Linked DNA regions of Homo sapiens: regions 2 and 3 are each linked to region 1. Evidence: fine-mapped expression QTL. A gene starts in region 1. Each other region holds a variant in brackets. All regions are shown on one strand. Distances are from middle to middle.

The links.
Region 2: its variant is fine-mapped to the expression of DOCK7 in whole blood (INTERVAL, PIP above 0.99).
Region 3: its variant is fine-mapped to the expression of DOCK7 in whole blood (TOPMed, PIP above 0.99).

Annotation. Positions count from the first base shown.
Region 1 is chr1:62,684,134-62,695,373 of GRCh38, reverse strand. DOCK7 (dedicator of cytokinesis 7) reads left to right here and starts at 6,988. Exons shown (of 50, transcript NM_001367561.1): 1 at 6,988-7,147. The coding sequence starts at 7,110. DOCK7-DT (DOCK7 divergent transcript) reads right to left here and starts at 6,892. Exons shown (of 2, transcript NR_185999.1): 1 at 6,722-6,892. RefSeq lists an enhancer at 5,582-5,876 and a silencer at 6,886-7,635.
Region 2 is chr1:62,624,629-62,632,628 of GRCh38, reverse strand. DOCK7 (dedicator of cytokinesis 7) reads left to right here. Exons shown (of 50, transcript NM_001367561.1): 11 at 1,224-1,389; 12 at 7,228-7,370. Among named protein-coding and RNA genes, the nearest start is that of ANGPTL3, 31 kb to the right of the region's middle. The variant T/C (reference allele first, on the strand shown) is at 4,093.
Region 3 is chr1:62,520,931-62,528,930 of GRCh38, reverse strand. It overlaps DOCK7 (dedicator of cytokinesis 7), which reads left to right. Exons shown (of 50, transcript NM_001367561.1): 31 at 626-780. Among named protein-coding and RNA genes, the nearest start is that of ANGPTL3, 73 kb to the left of the region's middle. The variant A/G (reference allele first, on the strand shown) is at 3,354.

The DNA.
Region 1 (11,240 bases):
ATAAGGCTCTTATCTAATGGTTTAGCAGCAATGATCTTTGGATCAGTGCTGTCCAACAGATCTTCATATGATAATGGAAATGTTCTGTCTGTATACTGTCCAGTATGGCAGCCCTTAGCCACCTGTGGCCTACTGAATACTTAAAATATGCCTAATAAAACTGAAAACTCAATTTTTAGTTTTATTTAATGAATTTAAGTGGCCACATGTGGCTTGTGGCTACGGTATTGGATTATACAGGTTTAGCTTAATTATTTCATCTGAGTCTGCATTTCTTAGCTGAAATTCTTTTAAAAGAATTTTACTTCATCAAATATGACTACCTTGAAATATAGCTGGATACTGTAAAATCTATACTTGGTCTTCATTCCATTTCCTGGCATAAAACTCATAAAATCCTTGTGATTTCCAAAGGAATAATTTTTTTGTATGCTAATAAAATGACTGGTGGCTGGCAGCTTCTGTGTAGCTTCAGGATGGGGGCTGGTAAAAGACGATTAGAGGTTTAGGACTGATACCGTTTGGCTCTGTGTCCCTGCCCAATTCTCATCTTGTAGCTCCCATAATTCCCATGTGTTGTGGGAGGAACCTGGTGGGAGATGACTGAGTCACGGGGGCGGGTCTTTCCCGTGCTGTTGTTGTGATTGTGAATAGGTCTCAGAAGATCTGATAGTTTTAAAAATGGGAGTTTCTTTGCACAGGCTCTCTCTTTGCCTGCTGCCATCCATGTAAGACGTGACTTGCTCCTCCTTGCCTTCTGCCGTGATTGTAAGGCCTCCCCAGCCAGGTAGAACTGTAAGTCCATTAAACCTCTTAATTCTGTAAATTGCCCAGTCTCAAGTATGTCTTTATCAACAGCATGAAAACGGATTAATACAGGACTTTTTAGCCCTACCACCTAACCTCCAGGAAGGGGAGAGGGGCTGAAAATTAAGTTGATCATCAGTGGCCAGTGATTTAGTTGATCATGCCTCTGTAATGAGGCCTCTACCAAAACCCAGAGAGCTGAACATGTAGAGGTTTCTGGAGGGTGGTGCACCTAGAGAAGGCATGGAAGCTCTGCGCTCCTTCCCACATGCCTTGCCCTATGCATCTTTTCTACTTATCCTTTGTAATATCTTTTATAATAAACTGGTAAATATTAATATTCCCCTGTGTTCTGCTCTAGTATATTAATCAAACTCAAGGAAAGGGGTTGTGGGAACCCCAACTTACAGTCAGTCAAAGCACTGGTAGAACAACCTGTGGCTTGCAATTGGCACTGGATGTGGGGGGCAGTCTTGTGGGACCAAGCCCTCAACCTGTGGGATCTGACGCTAACTCCAGGTAGACAGTGTCAGAACTGAACTTCAGGTAGATTCCAGAACTCCAGAACGGAATTGGAGGAGACTCAACTGGTGTCTGCTGCAGAATCGATTGCTTGCTTGATGTATGGGGAAAAAAATCCCACATATCTGGTGTCAGAAGCATGTTGTTAGAGTATGGGAAAAACTGTTTTTTTCTACTGATATAATAGTCCATTGAGGAAAAACATTATGGACCTATTTTTAAAGTAGGCACTGAGCTTGCATTGTGGGCCATTTTGACTCAGGTGGTCTGGCCTTTTGGTCTTTCCCAATTCTGTAAAGCAGCAGAACCATGAGGTGCAAATACGTTCTATTCTGGCAAGATCCCTATTGTAGTCTCTGCATTACTTTCAGGGGATCTGTAATAGACACTGTTGGTACCCTGTACTTCACCCCATGGCTCCTTTCCGATTTTAGGTGTAGCTGTGGTGAACAATTCTCAGGGGCACTGATAGCTGGCCACCAGAAACACACACCATGTCTCTTAGCTTTTTGTAGTATTAAGTGTGCGGGCAGTTAATATTCCAATAGTAAGCCTTCAGCCAAGAGATCTAGATGGCATCAGGTAAATACTGAGCCTCAAAGAGACAATTCTGAGGTGCACTCCACACTTTACGCAGGTTGCAGGCGGGATTGAGCCTAAATTGCCCACAGTGGTAACACCTCAACAACACTATTTACTGGCTTTCCCTTCTCTGTTCTACTCTCTCCACTTCCTCATTCCAGCTTCTTAGCATCACTTCCTAATAAACTACCTGCATCCAAGCCTCAAGCTCTATTTTTGGGGAAATATAAATTAAGGCAGTGATATGGTTAGGCTTTGTGTCCCCACCCAAATCTCATCTTGAATTGTAATCCCCATAATCCCCACGTGTCAAAGAAGAGACCAGGTGGAGGTAATTGAATCATGGGGACGGTTTCCCCCATACTGTTTTTGTGATAGTGAGTGAGTTCTCAGGAGATCTGATGGTTTTATAAGGACTCTTCCCCCTTTGCTTGGCACTTCTCCGTCCTGCTGCTTTGTGAAGAAGCTGCCTTGCTCCCCCTTCACCTTCCACCATGGTTGTAAGTTTCCTGAGGCCTCCCCAGCCATGCTGAACTGTTAGTCAATTAAACCCCTTTCCTTTACAAATTACTTAGTCTTGGGCAGTTCTTTATAGCAGTATGAAAACGGATGAATACAGGCAGGATCTAAAAATACTTTAGTTCATGGCATTTATTCACTCAAAAACATTTACTAAGTTATTATAATGGACCAGGCAGTGTATTAGATACTGGAAATACAATGGTGAACAAGAGATCAAGTTCGATGGGGTGCAAAGATTAACAGACAATACTTCAATAGTGTGGTGAGTATTACAACAAAGTAAATGTGGGTGCTATTAGTTGTTAAGTATGGCCAGGTTGAGGACCCCTTAATTTCCCCCTGCAAAAATTACACTTGCTAGATATTGACAGGAAGTGAAGCACATAGGACAAAGTCAGGCAAAAGCATCTGTAGCTTAGATTTAGTGTCCAACTCCTAGGCTTTAGTTTGGGATTGAGGTAAACCCACATATCATGCCTCAGTTCTCCCTTTCTCTGGGCCACATTCATTTGGCCTTGCTAGAGGCTTCCAAAGAAGGAAGCTCCATGTTGATCTTATTGTATGAAACCAGCGGTGTTTCATAAAAACCCATGCCTGGCCGGGCGCAGTGGCTCATGCCTGTAATCCCAGCACTTTGGGAGGCCGAGGCTGGTGGATCACGAGGTCAGGAGATCGAGATCATCTTGGCAAACACAGTGAAACCCCATCGCTACTAAAAATAAAAAAAAATTAGCCGGGCATTGTGGCGGGCACCTGTAGTCCCAGCTACTCGGGAGGCTGAGGCAGGAGACTGGTGTGAACCCGGGAGGCGGAGCTTGCAGTGAGCCAAGATTGCACCACTGCACTCCAGCTGGAGCTACAGAGTGAGAGTCCGTCTCAAAAAAAAAAAAAAGCCCATGCCTGAAAAAAAGGAACCATTCCCTATGCTCCCCCAAATCCCAAAAGAGAACACATTCTGCCTGCAAAGCCAGAACTTAATCCATCATGACCCGAAAACTCTATTTCTTTGTACTGTAGCCTTAGACCCTTGACCAGACCCCTCCACAATCCTCCTTGGTGCTACATTAAAGCGGGTAGACCCAAGTTCAATAAAGGGTAGAATGCAAAACTCATAATTTTCCCACCTTCTTTTCTCTTTACTTTTTTTTTTCTGTCATATCCCTAAGTTTTCTGCTTGAGGGACTTAGTACACTGGTATGTCTAATGAAAACTGTTCTGAGGCTTTCTTACCTAAAACTCACTGTTTTGAGTAGACTCTGCCAAATTGGTCCTGGCTTCTGGCAAGTAGTTTCTTTGTATCTTTCCATCAGTGGGGAGCTTGGGCCCTGAATTCTGAATTGGGCTACTCATGCTCCCGGAGTTGCAGCCAGCCTTTCTCCTAGGTTATATAACAGGGCTAAGGACAGGGTTAAATTCCATCCAGTTTTTAACACCTCATATTTGAGAACTGGTGCTATCAAGAATTTATATGCACTCCAATAGCTTCCTTAATTTTTCCTGTCTCAGCATGTAACTTACTATTTACTTACTTTTCTCTTCTACCAGACCCTAAACTCTTTGAGGACAGAAATACTGCGCTATTTACCACTATATTTCCAGGGTCTAGTATAGTACTTAATGAATGTTAGTTAACTGAATGAAGTCCTGTATCAGGTAAGACTTTGAACTGCTAATGAAAGCAAACCTAATGAAAAACCAGCCACACCCCCAAAAAAATTCCAGCACATTTTTAGCTCATGTAACTGCAAAGTCCAAGGCTCAAGTCATGCTATATTCTAAGGAACTTGTCTTTTTCAATATTTTTGCTCTCCTCTCTGCTGTGCTTGGCTTCATTCTCAGGTAGGCCTTCTTTAGATGGAGTGCCCTGGTATACCAAATGCAATTTCTAATTCTGGTTGGGCCCGATTGTCTTGGTTTGATTCATGAGCCTATCCCTAAATCAGTTACAGAAGCCAGAGGAGTGTGCTGCTTTGCTTGGTGAGGCCCAGGTCAAAAGACCCTTGAAACTGAGGGTGGTGGAGTGAGCTCCCCAGAAGTATAGTGGATTGACACCTGTGTGTGTGTGTGTGTGTGTGTGTGTGTGTGTGTGTGTGTAGGGGGTGGTATAGGGAGCATGGATGCTAGTCAGCTGAAGCAATTCCACTGTCACTCCCATTGCTGCGTTCCATATCTTTTCCTGACATTGAAACCCTGTGGGGCAGGGATACCAGCCAACATGACTTGGTCTGTGACTGCCAGCTCTTCCCCAGAGGTAGGGGGTCACCCTTCCTGCTTAGAGTGTTCCCCAGACTCTGAATTACCCTGCTTACAGCGTGATCCTGCTTGTCCTCTTCCTGCTCTAAATGTTTCCAGTAAGCTGCAGAGTACATGCAAAGTCCTTTCAGACACTTTGGCAACTAGTGAGTCATGTATACAAAGAACTATTCAAAGCAAAATGTGGCCAGTTCTCTAAGAGAGTAGTGAAAAGATGTTTGGAGAACAGAGATAAAGGCATGCAACATCTGGCTGGGAGTATGAGAGCAGACAACCAATTCAGGGACTATCAAACACCCAGGACAAGCTTAAGTATAGGATGAATAATGACAGTAACAGTGATAATAATAACAACAGCTGACACACATCGTACTTACCATGAACCAGGCCCTGTTCTAAGAACTTTATATTAATCAATTCAATAAATCTTCACAACACCCTTTCAAGTAGATATAATTATTTTCCTCCTTTTAGAGATGAAGTTAAGTAGCTTGCCTAAGGTTACAGAGTAAGAAAGTGGCAAAATAAGTCTGGGTTCCTATCACAGAGGGTCTTAAAAGCCAGGTACAGTGATAGCCTTGACTTACAGTCTGTGAGTACCTGGTTCATCTTTCCCAATGGACTCAAACATTCTGAGAGCAGGTCTGTGTCTAGTTCACCTTCGTGTTTTTTAGAACACCTAGGTGGGCTCTATACTTAGGTAGAAGCCAAATATCTGTCCTCTTTGAATAGACTATCTTTTCCTTTAGTAAACAAGCATCTGAAAACAGTGTGTTACTGGAGGGCGCCTTGGCAAGAGCCTGTGGTACTAGCTACTCCTCCAGAGGCTGAGGCAAGAGGATTGCTTGAGCCTAGGAGTTTTAGGCTGCAGTGCCCTATGCATTCCATGCTTGAGCAACACAGGGGGATTCTGTCTAAAATAAATAAATCAATAAATAAAAGCAGTGTGTTACTGCAATGAGCATTGTTATATAAATACACAGTCTTCCACAGAAGTTACAGCACTAGACAGGAAGTTATGGATCTGACTAATTGAGGCTTTCACCTCTGACTCAGTGTGTGACTCTGGCAAGTGACCTAATGGCTCCAAGCTACAGATTTTCCAATGGTAAAAGAGAGGAAAACAGGTATCCAACATATTCCACCAGGACATACTGAGAATATAATAATAACAATAAATAAATACACATTTTAAGTTCTTGCAATACTTAAGAGGAAAGGTACTACAAGAAACCAAGATATTTTTCTTAGTGTCACCATAATTTCAGTATCAACAGATATGCATTAGGAGCCAAATATTCTAGACATTATGGGATTACAACAGAACAGATGAAAACAAATCTCTGCTAGTCTCTGTTTTATAGGCTATTATGGACAAGGTCAGTTTCAGTGGTCAACACAGAGCTTATTTAACAGAACATCAAAATGGGGGTGAACGTTAGAGCTCACCTGGATTTTATATATATATATATATATATATATATATATATATATATATATATATATATGTATGTATGAGAGACAGAGAGAGATCCAAAAGGGGTTAATAATACGGAAACAACTGTCCTCAAAGAAAAGAACCGGCTCTGGGTTTGAGTCTCAGTGGAAGAGTTTACCATCTGTGCGACCTGGGGCCAGTCACTTAGCTTTTCCAAGCCAATTTCCTTCCCTCTAAAATAGTGATAGTAACGATCTACTTCAAAGCGCTCGTGCTTGAAAAACTTTAATCCAGTGGCTGGCTAAGCACCAGAAGTCAACTATTACTATTGTTATCGCTGCAGGAGCAAGGTATTTTCTGGCTCTTTCTCTATAAGAAAAACCACTGTTTCTCCAGTTAGGCTGCATTCATGAGGCCGAAGCAGAAACCCAAGTGCTTTAAAAAGCTCGGAGACCGGTGCTGCAGAAACATGAACCCAGTCATCCAGGGCTTTGGTTAAAGCACAGCCCCCTCGGCAAAGCCCACCTTTCATTTCCTTCCCTTCCATTTCGGGAAAGCCAAGCTCCCCCTACGCGTTCGGTTATCTTATTTTCTTGCCTCGCCAGGTCGCTGGCCTGTCTCTGGCTTCTCTCCGCGACCTCTCGGTCGTGCAGGCTCCGCGGCAGCGAAGCGGCTGGGGCTGGCGCCTCGCTTCCTCAGCGCTCCATTCTTCCCCTCGGCTCCCGCCGGCCGCAGCCGCCTTCCGCAGCCGGGGTTCCCGCCGGGATTGACGCGCTGGGGGAGGAGCGGTTTCTCGTTGCGCGCCTCTAAGGAACATTACGGCAGGGCTCGTTCCTGGCTCCGGCCGCCAGCCCCAGCCTCCCAGGTCCGGAGCCCGGACTGGCGGAGGCCGCGAGGGAGGGAGCACGAGCGAGGAGGCACGCGCCCGCCGGTCCGCACCCGGCCCGCCGCAGCCGCCGCCGCCGTCGCCGTCGCCGCAGCAGCCATGGCCGAGCGCCGCGCCTTCGCCCAGAAGATCAGCAGGTAAATATCCGGCGTGGGGCGCGCCGCCGCCGCCGCCCGAGAAAGAGCCGCGGAGTCCTCCCAGGCCTGGCCTAGGAGGCGGGTGGGTGTGGCGGGGCCGGCACCGGGATCCCGCGGCCTGGCTCGCGGCGGGGCGGAAGGGGTTCGGGGTGGCTGAGGGGGTAGCGGAGGCCTCGCGCCGCCCTCGAACCCCGGCCTTCAGCCCGCGCCCGCCGCTGAGCCTCGGCAGGGAGCGGAGAGGGCCGCGGACTCCAGCGCGCCCGCCTCCTCCTGCTCCTCGGCGGCCCGGGCCTGGACTTCTGCGGAGGTTTATGGAAGGGCGGTCGGCCGCTTCCCAAATTCTTTGTGTTCCCACCCCCGGGCTCGTCGGGGGCCGCCGCGGCGTTTCGCCCCCTCCCGTCTCTCCGCCCACCCCTCTTGGCCCCTAGAGGGTGCGGGGTCCGCCCTCCTCCACCCCAACAAAAGGAGAAACGCGCGGCGGCTCGGGGCGGGTGGGAGGCCGCCCCTCCTTCACGCGTCTCTCTCTTCCTGAGAAATCTGACAGGAACCCTCTTTGCACCCTCGGGCCAGGTTCAAAGTGGACTTGTGCGTCCAGGATTGAAAACGTGTGGACAGAATGAAAAGTTGAGAGCTGCGGGCTGCACCTTCGGTGTGCAGCTGCCGAATCCCTGACGGATTGCAGGCTGAAGCTTGTTCTGAGTTCGCCTGTGAATTTAACTGTGCGCCTGTGTTTCTCAGAGCACCCGAGAAGATGGATGATAGGCAGTGTTCTTTATACACTGACATCCTTTTATATGTTAGCAGTCTTGAAGTAAAGCAAGTGATTGCAGTCTTGAAGTAAAGCAAGTGATTGAGGTGGAGGTTTCAAAGCCTTTCACCTACTTGTGGTGGTTGGTTGCCACCTTTCTCCCACCCGCCAAATAAAAATTAAATGACAGAGGACTCTAATATTTGTAGAATTTCTTTGTGGAGTATACTTATGTATGAGACAGTAGACATTTTTGTTTTAATAAAATCATATTTGTGTGAATTATGATGTCCCAAGAAAAGAAGCATTCATATTAAATTACCTTTTTTTGTTTTGGGGCAGTTGTAGTTCTGTGGCTCTGAGTCTTTTTAGTTTGCTGACATTTCTTTAAAAATTTTGGGCCGGATGCAGTGGCTCAGGCCTGTAATCCCAGCAGTTTGGGAGGCCGAGGCAGGAGGATCGCTTGAGGCCAGGAGTTCAAGACCAGCCTGGGCAACATAGCGAGTCCCCCCCACCCCATCTCTGCAAAAAAATTAGCCAGGTGTGGTGTTGCACCTGTCGTCCTAGCTGCTTTCGAGGCAGAGGCTTTTTTTTTTCTTTCTTTCCAGCGTTCTAGCACTTTTTTTTTCCTGAAGGGGCAAAATAGCAAGTGTTTAAGAGCATGGGCTCTACTCTCAGACCCCGACATGGGTTCAAATCCTGATTGGTATTTTCTAGCTTGGGACTTTGGCCAAGTTGTTGGGCCAAATTTCCGTTTCCTCGTCTGGCAAATGAGAATAATAATAGGACCCAGCTCATAGTGTTGTTGTGAACATTAAGTGGCATAATTTGTGTAATGTGCGTAGGATAGTACAGGGCCTATACTACCTGTCATCAAACACTTGTAGTAATTAGTTTCTCCCAGGGAGTTATGATGACAGGAAATTTTTTTTTTTTGTAAAATAATTAGGTCTTACTTCTGATGATGATGTCATTAAAAAATGTTATTACTGGCCGGGCGCGGTGGCTCACGCCTGTAATCCCAGCACTTTGGGAGGCCGAGGCGGGTGGATCATGAGGTCAGGAGATCGAGACCATCCTGGCTAACAAGGTGAAACCCCGTCTCTACTAAAAAAAAAAAATACAAAAAATTAGCCGGGCGCGGTGGCGGGCGCCTGTAGTCCCAGCTACTCGGGAGGCTGAGGCAGGAGAATGGCGTGAACCCGGGAAGCGGAGCTTGCAGTGAGCCGAGATTGCGCCACTGCAGTCCGCAGTCCGGCCTGGGCGACAGAGCGAGACTCCGTCTCAAAAAAAAAAAAAAAAAAAAAAAAAAAAAAAAAAAGTTATTACTTGACATGTATTCCTAGTTTTAATTTCTCTTATTAGAACCAGAAGTTTATCTCTGAAAACATCATGCTGATAAAGTAAGTGCACTTTAGAGAGTTGGATATGAAATTGTATGTCTATTAGTGGAGTTCGCCACCAGATGGGATAGGACAAACCACAAGAGAAAAAGAGAATCAGTTGTGCAAAACAACACAAAATGCAAATAAGAACAGCTTTCTAAGAAGTTATAAAATTAAGATAATGTGAATGAAGAAATGTGCACTTATTGGACAGACAGGAGGTGGATATGGTAGTGATTGGTGATTGGACATGCAAGGTGAGGCGGACTGAGGAGTCTGGGATGACATCCTAAGTTGGGCAACCACGTGGATGATGGTGGCAGTCTTTGGGGTAAGGGAGTACAGGAGGAAAAAGGAGTTTGAGATTGGGAGATGCAAGTGGGATGGAGATGATGATTCAGTTTTGGACATGTTAATTTTGAGGGGCTCATGAATCATTCAGAGAGAAATATCTATTTGGTTTTTGGTGCAGGTTGAAGGTGCAGAAGAGAGATTGGGCTGGAGATCTAGATTTGAGAGTTATCAGCAAGTAGATTGCATTTGGAGCCCGGGGGTGGGTGGGGGTTGATGAGATTGTCCAGTGAGAATGTGCAGACTTAACTTGGAAGGAATACCAAAGACAGAACTGCTATGAGTAATGCATTATTAACTGCTTATTGTGAATGAAAGGTTCTTCCTTGTTATCAAATATGATTGAATAATACTTAATACTTCTGAATCAATTCGTGTTCTGCTTTTTAACTTTTCTATTAGAGGAAGTATAGCACAAATTCTGGAGATGAAGTTCCTGGGTTTGACACCCCAGCACAGCCACTCGTTGAGTAAACATGGCCAAGTTACTTGACCACACTTCTGCCTCGTTTTCCCTATCTAGAAAATGAGGATGATGGTAAGACTTAACCTCGTAGGGTTGTTGTGGGGATTAAATGAATTGTTACCTCTAAAGTGCTTAGAACAGTGCTCTAAGTGCCTAGTAAGTATCAACTGTTTTTTACTACAGTATTTATAATGTGGTTTGAGGCTTTTGTTGGAAATGATAATCCTTTTCCTAGTGTTCGTATATGAAATTTGTTGCTCTGTGAAAAGCCTGTTGCTGTTTGAAACCTTATTTCTTTTCAAAGCTTTGTGATTGTTCAGAAACCTATACTTTAAAAAGAATTATAATGATCTTGTTTCTGTCGCAGTTATTTTTTAGCCCCTTGCATTTAGTGCAGTTATTTTTTGAGGCTGTGATTTGGTGATTTCTGAAGGCTCTTTATTCTTATTATCACTAATTATACTGTTTACTTCAGCTCACCATAGAAAAGCAGCATGTATATCTTGTCCATATCAAGTAGTTGTCTTTGTACATGTGTGTCCCCTTTGCTTTTTGAGGATAAGGCCCATGGATTTATGGAATGTAGACTGTAGACAAATTGTCTAGGATTTTGTTGGGATTATTTTGTCCTGTTGCTTGATACTCAGCAGTAATGATGAACATTTGTGTACACTTAAAGCACTTTTTACTGCATTCTCATCTTCATAACCCAGAGAGGCAGAAAATGTACTAAAGAATATAGGATCTGGGATCAGATTGCACAGGTTGAAATTCTGCATATACCACAGAAAAATGGGGATAACAGCCTCAATAAAGTTAATGTGAGGATTAAATGAGTTAATACATGTGTAAGTGAGCTAATACAGTTCTAATAATGCATTAGTAGTACTGTGTCAGGAACATAAGCATTCAAAAATGTTAGCCACTGCTATTATGATTTCCATATTACTTACTGTTGTTATCATTTTCTAGATGAGGAATTGAGGCCTAAAAACAGCAACTGTATTTGCCTAAATTGGGACTCAAATCCTAGTTCTCTGATTTCAGATTTTTTTTTTTTTTTTAAGATGGAGTTTTGCTCTTTCGCCCAGGCTGGAGTGAAGTGGCGCAATCGGCTCACTGCAACCTCCACCCCACTGCCCC
Region 2 (8,000 bases), 61 kb after region 1:
AGATACTATGGGTTAGCTACAAGAATACAAGTGATCTTTGGATCTTTGAACACAAGATTTAATACTGGAACTTCTGGGAGAAGTATGCTTGAGGAATACTGGGTAAGCAACCCAAACCCAGAAAATGTTTTGCTATTTTCCCAAGATTCATAACAAGAACTGAGCTTTTTCTGTAGATCTGAGCACATGATATTTTTTTCTTGATCCTTGATTACCTGGCTGAACTAATGGTTTAAGTATAGTATTCTGGCTGTCCCCAGGTTGTCATTTTACATTAAATTTGCTCTGTTACATAGTGCTCTTAAATATACTAGCAGCTTATTCTGCTTTTTACTTATATTTACATACACTGATAGAATTAAGTATACTTGAAATATACTTAAAATAAGAACTGTTTTAAGGGTATAGTAGAGATAGTAATAGTGCTATCATTTAGTTATCGTTTCATCTTTTTCTAGCCCTGAGTCCCAAGGTAGGACACTGTCATTAGTGTATACTTCAACATCCCATCTGCAAAGAGTATATGAGAGAGGTAGTATAGGTTTCAGTCTTGAGTGTTGATTGGCTTTTGCAGGCCACCTCTTGATGTTTGTTTCAGGAGTAGCCTAAAAGTTGAGCCAGCCTCAAGATGTCTTCCAGATATGCTTGTACTATTAAATATTTGGACCGTTAGTCTTTTTCCAGCGTTTAGTCTTCTTCTACTTTCCTTTTTACTTTTTACTTTCCTTCTTTTGTTACAACTCTGAGCTTGTTTATCATTGGCCTATTCGTGCTTCCCCACTCTTAACTCATGGTTGTTATATGTTAGGGACTATTTCAAATGTGCTCAGCTACTTCCATCTTTTATAGAGTAACAAAATTTAACAAATTATAACTAGAATATTTTGTAGTTACCAGTTGCTGACTAGACCATGGTTATACTTCCTAAAACAATACTTGGAATACATAATACATGTTTGGTACTTACTCTCTTCTCCCCAGAATAACATAATCACAAATAGAAATTTCAAAGACCTGCTCTGTACGTACATTTGTAGAATGTGTTGAGTTTGTTCACTGGTTAAGATATTGCACTAATACTTCATCTCTGTAAGGTACAGATTTTTTTCTCATCTCTGCTGAGAATTGAGACTTCTCATCCTTTTCCTTTATGTAGTATGAAATAGCCTTTAACTGATTTCTTTCAAGTATAATCATATAATGTATAAAGTTCTGTTTTGCAGAATAAAGAAAAACTGGAGAAACTGAAGAGTCAAGCAGATCAGTTTTGCCAAAGACTTGGGAAATATCGCATGCCTTTTGCTTGGACTGCAATCCATTTAATGAATATTGTTAGCAGTGCTGGGAGTTTGGAAAGAGATTCTACAGAAGTAGAAATCAGTACTGGAGGTAAGAGTGTTTCATACAAAACATTTCTAAATGTTTACTTTTTTCTTTTTTTTTTGAGATGGAGTTTCGCTCTATGGCCTAGGCTGGAGGGCAGTGGCACGATCTTGGCTCACTGCAACCTTTGCCACCGGGGTTCAAGCAATTCTCCTGCCTCAGCCTCCTGAGTAGCTGAGATTACAGATGTGCGCCACCACGCCTGGCTAATTTTTGTATTTTTAGTAGAGATGGGGTTTCACCATTTTGGCCAAACTGGTCTCGAACTCCTGACCTCAAGTGATCTGCCTGCCTCGGCCTCCCAAAATGCTGGGATTATAGATGTGAGCCACCATGCCCGGCCTCTTTTTTCTTATATAAGCTTGTTTCATTTGTAGACTCTGCAATGTAATATTGCATAAAAAGGATTTTCTTTTTTCTTTTTTTTTGCCTTTTTCTCATTTAACACCATTATTAAGATATAATTCACATACCATATAAGTCACCAATTTAAATTGTACAATACAGGAGATCTTCAAATATCTCATTTTGTTTTTGATTTTTTATAATGTTGATGAGGAAACAAATTGATTCCTGGCTGGAGCTACTGTCTGTGTAGAGTTTGCATGTTCTCCCCAAGTCTGTGTGGGGAGTTTTGGGTACTCATTTCCTCCCAAATCCCAAAGCTGTGTGCATGAGGTTAATTGGCATGTCTTAAGTGGTAGCAGCGTAAGGTAACATGGGTGTGTGTGTGTGAGTGCACCTGTGATGGAATAGCGTCCTGTCCAGGACAGGTGCCTGCCTGTCGTGCGGGACCCCTATTGACTTTGGTAAGTATAACATCATATCACAGGCTGAAGAAGAGATGGGGAGCCAGAGAATGAGACATAGGGTTTACTGAGGGAACTTACATGCAGAGTGGCGAGCTGGACCGAAAACCACAGCCACTTGAAAAAGCATGCAGTTTATGTAGCATTTTCACTTAGCATCCTCCCCCTAGTAACTTCTACCTGGAAACCCTCATTTAACCCAAAACAAAGGGCCTTGATTCCATGTATGGCCTAGATTTCACTGGATGGGCTAGAAGTTCAGATGTCCTTATTCTCATAGATAAGGAATGAGTCTTCAAGTTTGGCCACTCCCAGGTTCCTTAGCTCGGAACTCCGAATACACATTCTTTTTAGACCATAGGGTCATTCTCAGGGCTTGCTTAAGTTACTGCTGTCGGGTGCATTTGCCATACACTGCCTTCTTTCATGCGCTGCTGGAACAGGCTTCGGCCATTTGTGACCCTGAACTGGGATAATTGGGTAAATAATTATCCTACTTATTTTTATTAATCTTTCTTAAATGTATGTACAGTGCACATTTATTTGAATGTTTAATATTAGAAGTGTTTTGAATATTTAGAAGTTTGGTTAAGTTTTTGTGACCAGAAATATGCTGTAGGGACTTAACTCTTGCTTATATTGATTAGCATGTGGTAAAATTGATTTGTTATACAACGTGTTGCTTAAAGTCACAGTTTTGAAGAACTGATCCATGATGTTAAATGAGGACTTACTGTGCAGTGTTTTCTTGGTATATTCACAGGGTTCTGCAACCACTGCTACAGAATACTTCTGTATCCATCTTGGAACACTTTTGTACCCATTAGCAGTGGTCACTCCTCATTCCCCCAGAGTCTTGCAACCTGTCCCTAAACAACCTTTAATATATATTCTGTCTCTATAGATTTGTCTATGCCAGACATTTCATACATATTGACTTGTATAATATGTAGTCTTTTGTGGCTAGCTTCTTTCACTTGCCATAATGTTTTTCAGGTTCATCCATGTCGTAGCATGTATTGGTATTATTTATTTTTATTGCCAAATGATAGTCTGTTGTATTGATATACTATATTTATTTATCAGTTGATTTGGGTTTTCTACTTTTAGTTTATTATGCATAATGTTTCATAGTGTTGAAACGTCATTTACAAGCTTTCGTGTGGACATTTTTTTTCCTTAGATATGTAGATATATAGCTAGGAGTGAAATTGCTGGGTCATATGATAATTCTGTGCTTAATCTTTTGAAGGACTGCCACACTGTTTTCCAATTTGGCTGCACCTTCAAAAATTCCACTAGCATTCCACTAGTGTGTGAAGGTTCCAGTTTCAGCATATCTTTACCAGTGTAACATATTATCTGCTCTTTGATTGTAGTCATTCTAGTGCAAGTGAAGTGGTACTCATTGTAGGTTGGATTTACCTTTTCTTAAAAGCTAGCGATATTAAGCATCATTTTGTGTGTATTGGCTATTTGTGTATCTTTCTTGGAGTAATAGGTATTTTTAACCTTTGCTCATTTTTTAATGGCTTTGGTCTTTTTATTATTTATTAATAGTTGATGCCTATTTTTTAAATGGGGTTTTAACCTTCTTGGCATTGAGTTGTAGGAGTTCTTTATATGTTCAAGATGCAAATTCCTTGCCTAATATATGATAGCAAATTTTCTCCTAGTCTGTGAGTTCACTTTTCTTGATGGTATTGTTCGTAGCACAGAAGTTTTAAATTTTGAGGAAGTTACATTTTTCTATTTTTTTCTTTTGTCACTGTGCTTTTGGTGTTTTATCTAAGAAACCATTATGTAATATGAATCAAAATTTACTTGTATGTATTCTTGTAAGAGTTTTATAGTTTCAGCTGTTACATTTAGGTTTATAATAATCCATTTTGAGTTAATA[T/C]TTGTATGTTGTGAGGTAGTCCAATTTCATTCTTTTTATGTGGATATCCAGTTGTTTCAGCACCATTTATTAAAAAGGCTATTCTTTTCCCATTGAATTTTCTTAGATCCCTTATTGAAAGTCAATTGACCATTCATGTGGGATTTATTTCTGGACTCTCCATCCCATTCCACTGATCTGTATGCCAGTGCTTTACTGCAGGGGTTCCTAATCCCCAGGTGGCGGACAGGTACCTGTCCTGCCTGTTAGGATCCGGGCCGTAGAGCAGTAGGTGAGCAGCAGCTGAGCTAGCATTATCGCCTGAGCTCTGCCTCCTCTCAGATCAGTAGTGGCATTAGATTCTGGTAGGAGCATGAACCCTATTGTGAGCTGCACATGCAGGGGATCTAGGTTACGTGCACCTTATGGGACTCTAATGATAAATGTAATGCGCTTTAATCATCCTGAAACGATCCCCACAACCCCATCTGTGGAAAAATTTTTTTCCATGAAACCAGTCCTTGGTGCCAGAAAGGTTGGGGACCGCTGCTATACCAAATTACTTTACCTTTGAAGGCTAAGTTTTGAAATTGAGAAGAGTGGGTCTTCCAGCTTTTATCCTGTTTCAAGATTTGTTTTGGCAATTTTGGGTTTCTTTTATTTCCATATAAATTTAGGACCAGCTGTCAGTTTGTGCACAAAGGCATCTGGGATTTTGATAGGGCTGACATTGAATCTCTAAGTCAATTTATAGATTGTTGCCATTTTAACAATTTTAAATCTTTGAATCTATGAACATGAAATTTTTTTCATTTATTTAAATCTTTTTCATTTTTTTCAGTGTTGTGTCATTTTCAGTGTACAAGTCCTTCTCTTGTTAAATTTATACCGTAGTATTTTATCGTTTCTTGATAATATTTTAAATGGAATTGTTTTCTTAATTCTGTCTTTAGAAAGTCCATTTCTAGTGTATAGAAATAAAATTGGCTTTTGTATATTGATCTTATACTCTGAACCCTTTTTGAATTTGTTTACTAAATTCGAATTGTTATTGTTCGTTTTTTTCCCCAGATTTTTTAGGATTTTCTGTATACAAAACCGTGTCATCTGCAAATAAAAAGTAGTTCACTTTTCTTTTTCAGTCTGGGTGCCTTTTATTTCTTTCTCTTTTCTGTCTTTATTAGAACCTCTTCTGCAATGTTTTAGAAATGACAAGAGTGGATATCCTTGTCTTATTCTTGACTTTAGGGAAAATGCAATCAGTCTTTCACCATCAAGTATGATATTTGCTGTTGGCTTTTCATAGATGTATTTTGGTAGATTGAGGAAGTTCTCTTCTATCCCTAATTTTTAAAAGTGTTTTTATCATGAAAGTCTGTTAGATTTTGTAAAATACTTTTTCTGCCTCTATTAGAATTATTTGTCCTGTATCCTTTTAATGTGGTGTTGCATCGAATGATGTGGTTTTTGGATGTTAAATTAACCTTAAATTCCTGGGAAAAGTCTTGCTTGGTCATGGCATGTAATCTTTTTTATGTGTTGTTGGAGTCTGTTTGCTAGTATTTTGTTCAGGATTTTTGCATCTATATTCATAAGGTATATTAGTCTGTAGTTTTTCTTTCTTTTGATGACTCTGTCTGGTTTTGGTATCAGGGTAATACTGGCCTCATAGAATGAGTTGTGAAGTGTTCCTTCCATTTTTTTGGAAGGGTTTTTGAAGGATTGGTATTCTTTGAAAGTTTGGAAGAATTCACCAGTGAACCTGTCATGGCCTGGTCTTTTCTTTGTGGTAAGTTTTTTCATTACTAACTCGATCTCTTTACTTGTTTTAGGTCTATTCACATTTTCTTTCATCTTGAGTCAGTTTTAATATAAATACTTTGAATCTTTCTAGAAATTTGTCCATTTCATCAAAGTTATCTAGTTGGTATCTAATCTAAGTGTTGGCCTACAGTTGTTCATAGTATTGCTGTATATTCCTTTATTCCTTTTACTCTGTAAAGTCTGTAAATGATATCTCTTCTTTCATTCCTGATTTTAGTAATTTGAGTCTTTTTTTTTTTGGTTCATCATTTTAGCTAAAGATTTGTCGGGTTTATCTTTTTGAACAAACAGTTTTTGGTTTAATTGATTTTTCTGTATGGTTTTTATAGTTTCTATTTTCCTTATTTCCACTCTGCAGTTGCCTCTTGTAGCCTTCTGCTGGTTTCGGATTTTTTTTCTCTTCTTTTGTAGTTTGTAGTTTGTTGAAGTCTGAGGTTATATTACTGATTTGAGATAGTTCTTTTTAAAATAGACATTAATAGCTGTAAATCCTCCCCCGAGCACTGCTTTAGCAATGCTTTGGTATGTTGTTCTTGCATTTTCATACATCTTAAATACTTCCTAATTTCTATTATTCCTTCTTTTTCCATTAGCTATTTTTTAAATGGGCTATTATACTTACATACATTTGTGAATTCCCCAAATTTTCTTCTGTTATTGATTTATAGTTTAATTCTTCTGTTGTTGGAGAACATTTTTATATGATTTTAATCTCTTTGAATGTATTGTATGTTGTTTTATGGCTTAGTATATAGACTGTTTTAGAGAATATTTTCTAAGTGCTTGACAAGAATGTATATTCTGCTCTTGCTTAGTGTACTTTAGTGTAGTGTAAATGTCCATTAGGTCTAGTTTGTTTATAGTTTTGTGCAAGTATTCTATTTCCTTGTTAATCTTCAGTCTAGTTCTGTTGGTTTTAAATAATAGGATTATCTTGCAAGTACTTTGAATACAAATTATCTTACAATTCTCTTTCAAACTAAAGAGCTAAGACTGAGGGAAGATTAACGATGACTAAAATTTTCCTGTGGTAAACATTTTGTAGTAAATGCATACTTCCTCTATAGCTGCTCTTTGTGGCTCATCATTGGTCATGCCCATAGATCTTTGCATGTTAGAAACTTATTTTTACACCTGTGATGTTGTAAAAAGACAACCAGAAGATTTAGGTACTTTCTTACTAATCTCTCCAAAAGCAAAATTCTCCTACTATACTTGATATGCTGAGTGGGTAATTTTCAATTTAGTAGATTCTTCCTTGTGTTTGGAAAGCTACTTTAAAACAAAATTTAACTTCTATGAAAATGAATTTTTTTTTTAATTCTTTTGTAGAACGAAAAGGGTCTTGGTCAGAGAGGAGGAATTCTAGTATTGTTGGCAGACGATCACTTGAAAGGACAACAAGTGGAGATGATGCTTGTAACTTGACGAGCTTTCGACCAGCTACTCTCACAGTGACAAATTTTTTTAAGCAGGTATTGTTCTGTCATGTAGGAATTTTGGGGAGATGTTTGTGCATAAATTTTTTTAATTTCAGAAAGGTAGTGATTGTACTATACATGTATGGGAGGGTGATTCCAAGAAACTTAAAAACTTTAAGAATAAAAATAATAAAAGCAACTATAAGAATGAGAAACGATTTATATTGTTCCTATTATTTTAGCATTATATTTATTTAAATGTTGAAATGTTGACCATGACTAATAATGCATCAAAATCCATCTTTCATACCTGTATCCTGTTTTTTTTTGTTTTTTTTTCTTGAGACAGAGTCTCGCTCTGTTGCCCAGGCTGGAGTGCAGAGACAGATCTCGGCTCACTGCAACCTCCGCCTCCCAGGTTCAAGCAGTTCTCCCTGCCTCAGCCTCCTGAGTAGCTGGGATTGCAGGCACCCACCATGCCTGGCCAATTTTTGTATTTTTTAGTAGAGACAGGATACTAAATGTTGGCCAGGCTGGTCTCGAACTCCTGACCTCATGATCCACCCTCCTCGGCTTCCCAGCTGGGATTACAGGTGTGAGCCACCATGTCCAGCCTGTATCCTATTTCCAAATTGTTAATAGTGTAACTTTTCTTAAACATTGGTTGTTTATGAATTTTCTTTA
Region 3 (8,000 bases), 160 kb after region 1:
TATAAAATTGAAATGAATATTCACTTGAATATCAGGAATTGTGTTTATTGCTAACACCAGGTTAATAAGTTGAAGTGGTATTACTTCTTCAAAACTAGAACCTACAGAGTTTTATTGCTCTTGCTTTCCATATTTAGAATTTACTTAAATACAGAATTTAGTTTGCAACAATATTTTCTTTAGGGCAAATGAGGGAATTTAAACCAGCAATTAGCCCGATAGCTTCCAGTTCAGTAAAACAGAAACATTTCCTGAGTATCTAATGTGTATTAAGAACTTTGACAGGTGCTGGTGTTGCAAAGATAACCAGCTATTTGCCTTAAGAGACTGATTGTTGAGCAGTCTTTCAAGTATTTTGATCACTAAAATGAATTTCCTTACCTGAAGGCAGAAATGTTTATATTCTTACATCTTCTGACTAGCAAGTTAATGTTCTCTGTAAACTATAAATTATTACCATAGCAATGAGTTACTGTTAAAGATATTTAAAATATTATCCAAAAGAAGTAAATCTAATAACTATAACATGTCAACAAGTTATTCTTTTAAAGAATAGTGGAGAATAGGAAAGGGAATTAGTTCAGCTAAACAGTTTTATTTATTTTTTTGGATTATTTTTCTTTAGAAACTCACAATCAACGAGGAAGACCAATTTGTATAGCCACTGATGATTATGAAAGTGAGAGCGGAAGTATGATAAGCCAGACCGTTGCCATGGCAATCGCAGGGACATCGGTCCCTCAACTAACAAGGCCTGGCAGTTTCCTCCTCACGTCAACGGTAAAAACAATCCTCCTACAGAATTTTTTTTTCTAGAAAGACAAATATTTACTAGGATATGCCCTTAAATATATGAGATGATTGTATCAGCTGATGCAAAAGTGCTCAGTTTTATTTATGAAAATATTAAAGTTCCCAGAATATTAACTGTCTTCTCCCAAACAGTTTTAAAAAATGATTACCTCAAGGTTTATGGGAAAAAGCCCCGTATTCTGTCATTCAGAATTTGGAAAATTGCCTCATTATAGATAGTTCATTTCTTTTTTTTTTTTTTTTATACTTTAAGTTTTAGGGTACATGTGCACAACATGCAGGTTAGTTACATATGTATACATGTGCCATGTTGGTGTGCTGCACCCAGTAACTCGTCATTTAACATTAGGTATATCTCCAAATGCTATCCCTCCCCCTCCCCCCACCCCACAACAGGCCCCGGTATGTGATGTTCCCCTTCCTGTGTCCATGTGTTCTCATTGTTCAATTCCCACCTATGAGTGAGAACATGCGGTGTTTGGTTTTTTGTCCTTGCAATAGTTTGCTGAGAATGATGGTTTCCAGCTTCGTCCATGTCCCTACGTCCATGTCCCTACAAAGGACATGAACTCATCATTTTTTATGGCTGCATAGTATTCCATGGTGTATATGTGCCACGTTTTCTTAATCCAGTCTATCATTGTTGGACATTTGGGTTGGTTCCAAGTCTTTGCTATTGTGAATAGTGCCACAATAAACATACGTGTGCATGTGTCTTTACAGCAGCATGATTTATAATCCTTTGGAATAGTTCATTTCTTTATTTTTTTAAACCTGTTTTATTCTTTGTCAGCCCTAAGAAAGATTCTCAGTCATTTGAGGGTTTTTTTAATCTGTGAATATTTATACTTTTTTATGTTTTGAAAACACTTGATATTTACTATGCCCCTGAACTTTTCCCCTCTTAAAGGCAGAAGGATCAGGGCAGGAAGGAACCAAATTGCCAATAGAGCAAGATCAAGTTCTAAAAGTTTTAAATGACATTTTTTTCCAGAAAAATGCAGTAATATTTAAGGAAACTTGACAATTTTATAGCTTTATTAAGATTATTTACATATCAAAAAATTCACCTATTGTGAGTATATATACCTTAATGGTTTTTAGTATATTTACGGAGTTGCGCAGGTATCACCACAAGCTAATTTTAGAACATTTCCAATACGCTGAAAAGATTCCTTATACCTATTAGCAGTCGTTCCTACCCCAGCACTAGAGAGTGACTAACCTACTTCTATCTATAGAATTGCCTATTCTGGACATTTTATATAAATGAAATTATTTACTATATGATCTTTTGTGTTTGTATTCTTTCACTAAGCATAAGTTTTTGAGGTTCATCCATGTCGTGTATGTATCAATACTTCTTTCCTTTTTTATTGCCAAATAGTATTCCATTGTATTGATACACCAAAGTTTGTTTATCCATTTGTCAGTTGATGAACAGCTGTATCATTTCCACTTTGGGGCTGTTAAGAATAATGCTGCCACGAACATTTATGTACAAGTCTGTGTCCACATATGTTTTCATCTCTCTTAGGTAGATACCTAAGAGTGGATTTGCTGGATCATATGGTACTTCTATGTTTAACATTTTTAGAGACTTCTAAACTCTTTTTTTTTTTCTAATGTGGCTGTACTGTTTTTCATTCTCATCAGCAATGAATAAGAATTTCTGTTCTCCAAATCCTCATCAACACTTGTTATTATCTGTCTTTTTGATTAGGACACCTTTAGTGATTGTAAATTGGAACTTCACTGTAGTTTTGATTTGCATTTCCCTAACAACCTACAGATGTTGAACATCTTTTTGTGTGCTTATTGGCACATTGTTTTGTATATCTCCTTTGGAGAAAAGTCTATTCAAATCTTTTGTCATTGGTCAGACACAGTGGCACACACCTGTAATTCCAGAAATTTAGGAGACTGAGGTGGGAGGATTGCTTGAGCTCAGGAGTTTGAGACCAGCCTGGGGGACATGACAAAACTCTGTTTCTATCCAAAACCACAAAAAATAGCCGGGCGTGGTGGCATGTGCCTACTGTAGTCCCAGCTACCTGGGAAGCTAAGGTGGGAGGATTGTTTGAGCCTGGGAGGTGGAGGTTGCAGTGAGCCAGGATTGTGCCATTGCACTCCAGCCTGCACAACAGAGCAAGACCCTGTCTCAAAAGAAAAAAAAGGTTGCTATTTTAAGATTTCTTAAGAGTTCTTTATGTATTCTGGATTTGTAAAATAATCAGCTATCTGATTTACAAATACTTTCTCCCTTCCTATGGATTATCTTTTTACTTTCTTGATGGTGTCATTTGAAGTGTGAAAGTTTTTAATGAATTCCAGTGTAGCAAATTTTTTTTATCAATTGCACTTTTGGTGACATTCTACCTATAAAATAATACAATAAAGTGCATGTACAAAATGTAATAATAAAATAAACAGCAGCATATCCACTGCTCAGTTTAAGAAATCAGACATTACAGCCTGGTAACCTTTGAAGCTACCAGTGGCCTTCCTCAATTTGATCTCTCCCTCCCCTGGGAATGACC[A/G]TTGTTCTCAATTGTATTAACCTTTTTATTTTTTTTAACTTTTCTTTTGTGAAGTATACTACATATGACAAAGTACATAAAACATAATGAGGTTTTAAAACATTAGAAAATAAACAGCTTTGTAATTACCACTCAGGTCAAAAACAAGGATGTTGGCTGCCATCCAGAAGTTCTTAGCATGCCCTTTCTCAACCACAGCAACCCACCAAACTCTCAGTGTCCTGATTGATGATATAATTGCATAATTTTGTTTAGAGTTTTACCATCTAGGCCAGGCATGGTGGCTCACGCCTGTAATCCCAGCACTTTGGGAGGCCAAGGTGGGCAGATCACTTGAAGTCAGGAGTTCGAGACCAACCTGGCCAACATGGTAAAACCTGATCTCTACTAAAAAATACAAAAAAATTAGCCAGACATGGTGGTGGGCGCCTGTAATCCCAGCTACTCAGGAGGCTAAGACAGGAGAATCACTTGAACCTGGGAGGTGGAGTTTGCAGTAAGCCTAGATCGCGCCACTGCACTCCAACCTGGGCAACAGAGCAAGACTCTATCTCAAAAAAATGTATAGATAGAGAGTTTTACCGTCTAAGTTTGCATTTTAAAAATATATAGTTTATAGTAATATATATATATATATATATATATAGTTTGGTTGGTTGGTTTTGTTTTGTTTTTTGAGACGGAGCCCTGCACTGTAGCCCAGGTAGGCTGGAGTGCAGTGGCACGATCTTGGCTCACTGCAACCTCTGCCTCCTAGGTTCAAGCGATTCTCTTGTCTCAGTCTCCCGAGTAGCTGGGATTACAGATGACTGCCATCATGCCTGGCTAATTTTTGTATTTTTAGTAGAGATGGGGTTTCACTATGTTGGCCAGGCTGGTCTCAAACTCCTGACCTCAGTTGATCCACCTGCCTCGGCCTCCCAAAGTGCTGGGATCATAGGTATGAGCCACCACGTCCTGCCAAAATACTGTAGTTTAGTTTTATATTATGTTTTTAGTATTCATTAATGTTATGAAATGTAGCTATAATTCACTGATTTTCATTTCAGTATGATATTCCATTGTCTAACTATAAATCAGTTTATTTGCCCATTCTGTTGATAGGTGCATGAATGGTTTCTGATCCTTGGTTATTGCAAATAACAATTTTGCAGACTTTCTTTTATATATATCCTGCATGCATATATATACTTTTATTTAGAGTATTTTCTAGAAGTGGAATTTGTTGGGTCATAGACTGTGGGTATCTTAATCTATACCAGGTAATGGCCAACTATTTTCCAGAGGGCGTACCTTAATTTATACTTAACACATACAATATGAGAGTTCTCATTCCTTCACATGTTCATCAATACTTAGAGAATTGTCAGATTTTTAAATTTTTGCCAATCTGGTCATTTATAGTTGAATCTCATTTTAGCTTGTATTTCCCCGAAGACTTGTGCGGTGTGCACTTTTCCATAAGTATGATTGACCATTTGGATTCTCTCTTTTGAAGTGTCTAGAGTTCTTTGCTTGTTTTCCATTTGGTTGTTTGCTTTTGTTTAATGATTTTTAGGACTTTGTATGTTCTAGATCAAGTCCATTGTCAGTTATAAGTGGTTCAAATATTTCTTCTCTGTGGCTTGCTGTTTTACCCATTTAATGGTGAATTTGGTGGTTAGAATGCCTAATTTTATTTTACTTTTTATTTATTTATTTATTTATCTTGGAGACAGAGTCTTGCTCTGTCACCCAGGCTGGAGTGCAATGGCACAATCTCGGCTCACTGCAAGCTCTGCCTCCCAGGTTCACACCATTCTACTGCCTCAGCCTCCTGAGTAGCTGGGACTATAGGCACCCGCCACCATGCCTGGCTAATTTTTTGTATTTTAGTAGAGATGGGGTTTCACCATGTTAGTCAGGATGGTCTCGATCTCCTGACCTCGTGATCTGCCCATCTCGACCTCTCAAAGTGCTGGCATTACAGGCGTGAGCCACTGTGCCCAGCCTAGAATGCCTGATTTTAATATACTTAAATTTAGTCTTGCAGCTAATATTTTCTATATCTTATTTAAGGAATTTTTTTCTGTTTCAGAATTTTGAAGGTATTCTGTGTTACATTCGAAATTTTTTGTTCTTCCTTTTACATTTAATTTTAAAATTAAAATCTACCTGAAATAGATTTTTTTATATACAGTGTAAGTTGGGAGTCCAGGTTCATTTATTTATTTATTTATATTGCATATTATGCCAGATTATTTCAGCACCGTTTATTAAAAGAATATTTTCCCTACATCTCTGAAATACTGCCTGTATATGGTCTACCATGTAGAGAAAGTCATACATTTTTAAAATTTTTCTTGGCTACTTTTTGGCCCTTTGTATATCTACATAAATTTGAAAATCAGCTTGTAAAGTTCCACTAAAATAAATAAACAAAAACCAATAAACCTGTTAAAATTTTAGTTAAGATTGTATTGAATTATGATTATACTATTGAATCTCGTAATTTTTGAACACAAATCCCCCCATTGTTTAGGCTGCCTTTAGTGTCTTTCAGTACATAAACTTTTTTAGTTTCTACCAAGGAGGACTAGCATATCTTTTGTAGATTTATTATTCGTGCTTGATATTTTTTAATGTTCCTATAAATGGTGTCTTTTTCAAAAATTCTGTTTTCTAACGTTGATTGCTTTATATGGAAATAGAATCAATTTTTGTACAGAAACAAAATACTCATTATCAAAAAAATTGATTTTTGTACAATGATTTTTATTTCCACAATATAAAATAAATGATAAAGTGATAAACTAATAACATATTTGTAGATTCTTTTTTTCTACACACAATCATATAATTTGTGAATAATAACAATGTAGTTTCTTCCTGTCAGTTTTTTTATATATGTAATTTATTGTACTGGCTAGTACCTCCAGTACAGTGTTGAATAGAAGTGGTGATGTTTGTATCTTTAAAGGTAAAACTTTCAACATTTCATTCTTAAACATATGTTCTGTATGTTTTGGGTTTTTTTTAAGATACCTTCCTTTATTGTGGAAGTCTCTTTCTGTTACTAGTTTACTAAGCATTTTGTTTTTTAGTTATGAATAGTTGAATTGTTATCGAATGCTTTTTCCACATTCATTGAGATGGCTGTATTGTTTTGCTTTTTGGTCTTTTAATGTTGTTTATTTAAATTGATTTTCTAGTGTTAAACCAACATTGAAATCCTGAATTAAACTCAACTTCTTCATAGTTGTGTACTAATGGATTTCGTTTGCTAATATTTTGTTAGGATTTGTATACGTATGTTCCTAAGATTGCCTATAATTTTTCTTTCTTATATTCTTTTCAGGTTTTAGAATCAAGTTTAGGCTAGCCAATTAAAATGAGGTAGGGAGTTTTCTCTTTTATCCTCTTCTCTGCAAGTACCTAAGATTAGAATTATCTCTTCCTGGAATATTTGGAGAACTTATGAAACCATCTGTGCTTGAAGTGTTTTCTTTTTCAAGTTTTAAAATTACTGTTATAATTTATTATCTGTGAGACTATTGAAGTTTTTTGTTTCTTCTTACATTGATTGTATTTATTTATTTTTATTTTATTTTATTTTATTTTTTGAGATGATATCTCGCTGTATCACACAGGCTGGAGTGCAGTGGCATGATCTCGGCCCACTGCAACCTCCGCCTCCTGGCTTCAAGCCATTCTCCTGCCTTGGCCTCCTGAATAGCTGGAATTACAGGTGCCTGCCACTGTGCCTGACTAATGTTTGTATTTTTAGTAGAGACAGGGTTTCACTACGTTGGCCAGACTAGTCTTGAACTCCTGACCTCAGGTGATCCCCCCGCCTCAGTCTCCCAAAGTGCTGGGATTACAGGTGTGAACCACTGCACCTGGTCTTCTTAACAACTGATTTTTGTAAATTTTATTCTAGTAGAAATGTATTCAAATTTCTTGACTTATAAAGTTATTCAAAAATACCTTGTATAATTTTTTAAATGTCTGTATCATCTGTAGTAGATGTAAACTTTTTTCTACGGCTAGATTTTTGTACCTTTTCTTGTCTTTATCAGTCTTACCAGACAGTCGAAATGTATTGTTAGTCTTTATAAAGAACCAGTATGGTGGCACTGTTGACCCTCACTTTTTAAAGTTTATTATTTACTATCTTCTGCTTTCTTTGGGTTTACATTCATGTTCTTTTTCTAACTTCTTGAGATAGATGCTTAACTCACTAATTTTCATCCTTTCTTTTTTGATATGTATTTTCAGCCTATGCATTTTTCTTTGATTGTTTAGTTAAATGCTGTTTATATGTAACATTTTTTTCCCTTTTTTTAAATTATACTTTAAGTTCTGGGATACATGTGCAGAATGTGCAGGTTTGTTACATAGGTATACACATGCCGTGGTGGTTTGCTGCACCCCTCAACCCATCAATTACATTAGGTATTTCTCCTAATGCTGTCCCTCCCCTACCCCCCTACCCCCTGACAGGCCCCAGTGTGTGATGTTCCCCTTCCTGTGTTCATGTGTTCTCATTGTTCGACTCCCACCTATGAGTGAGAACATGTGGTGTTTGGTTTTCTGTTCCTGTGTTAGTTTGCTGAGAATGATGGTTTCCAGCTTCATCCATGTCCCTGCAAAGGACATGAACTCATC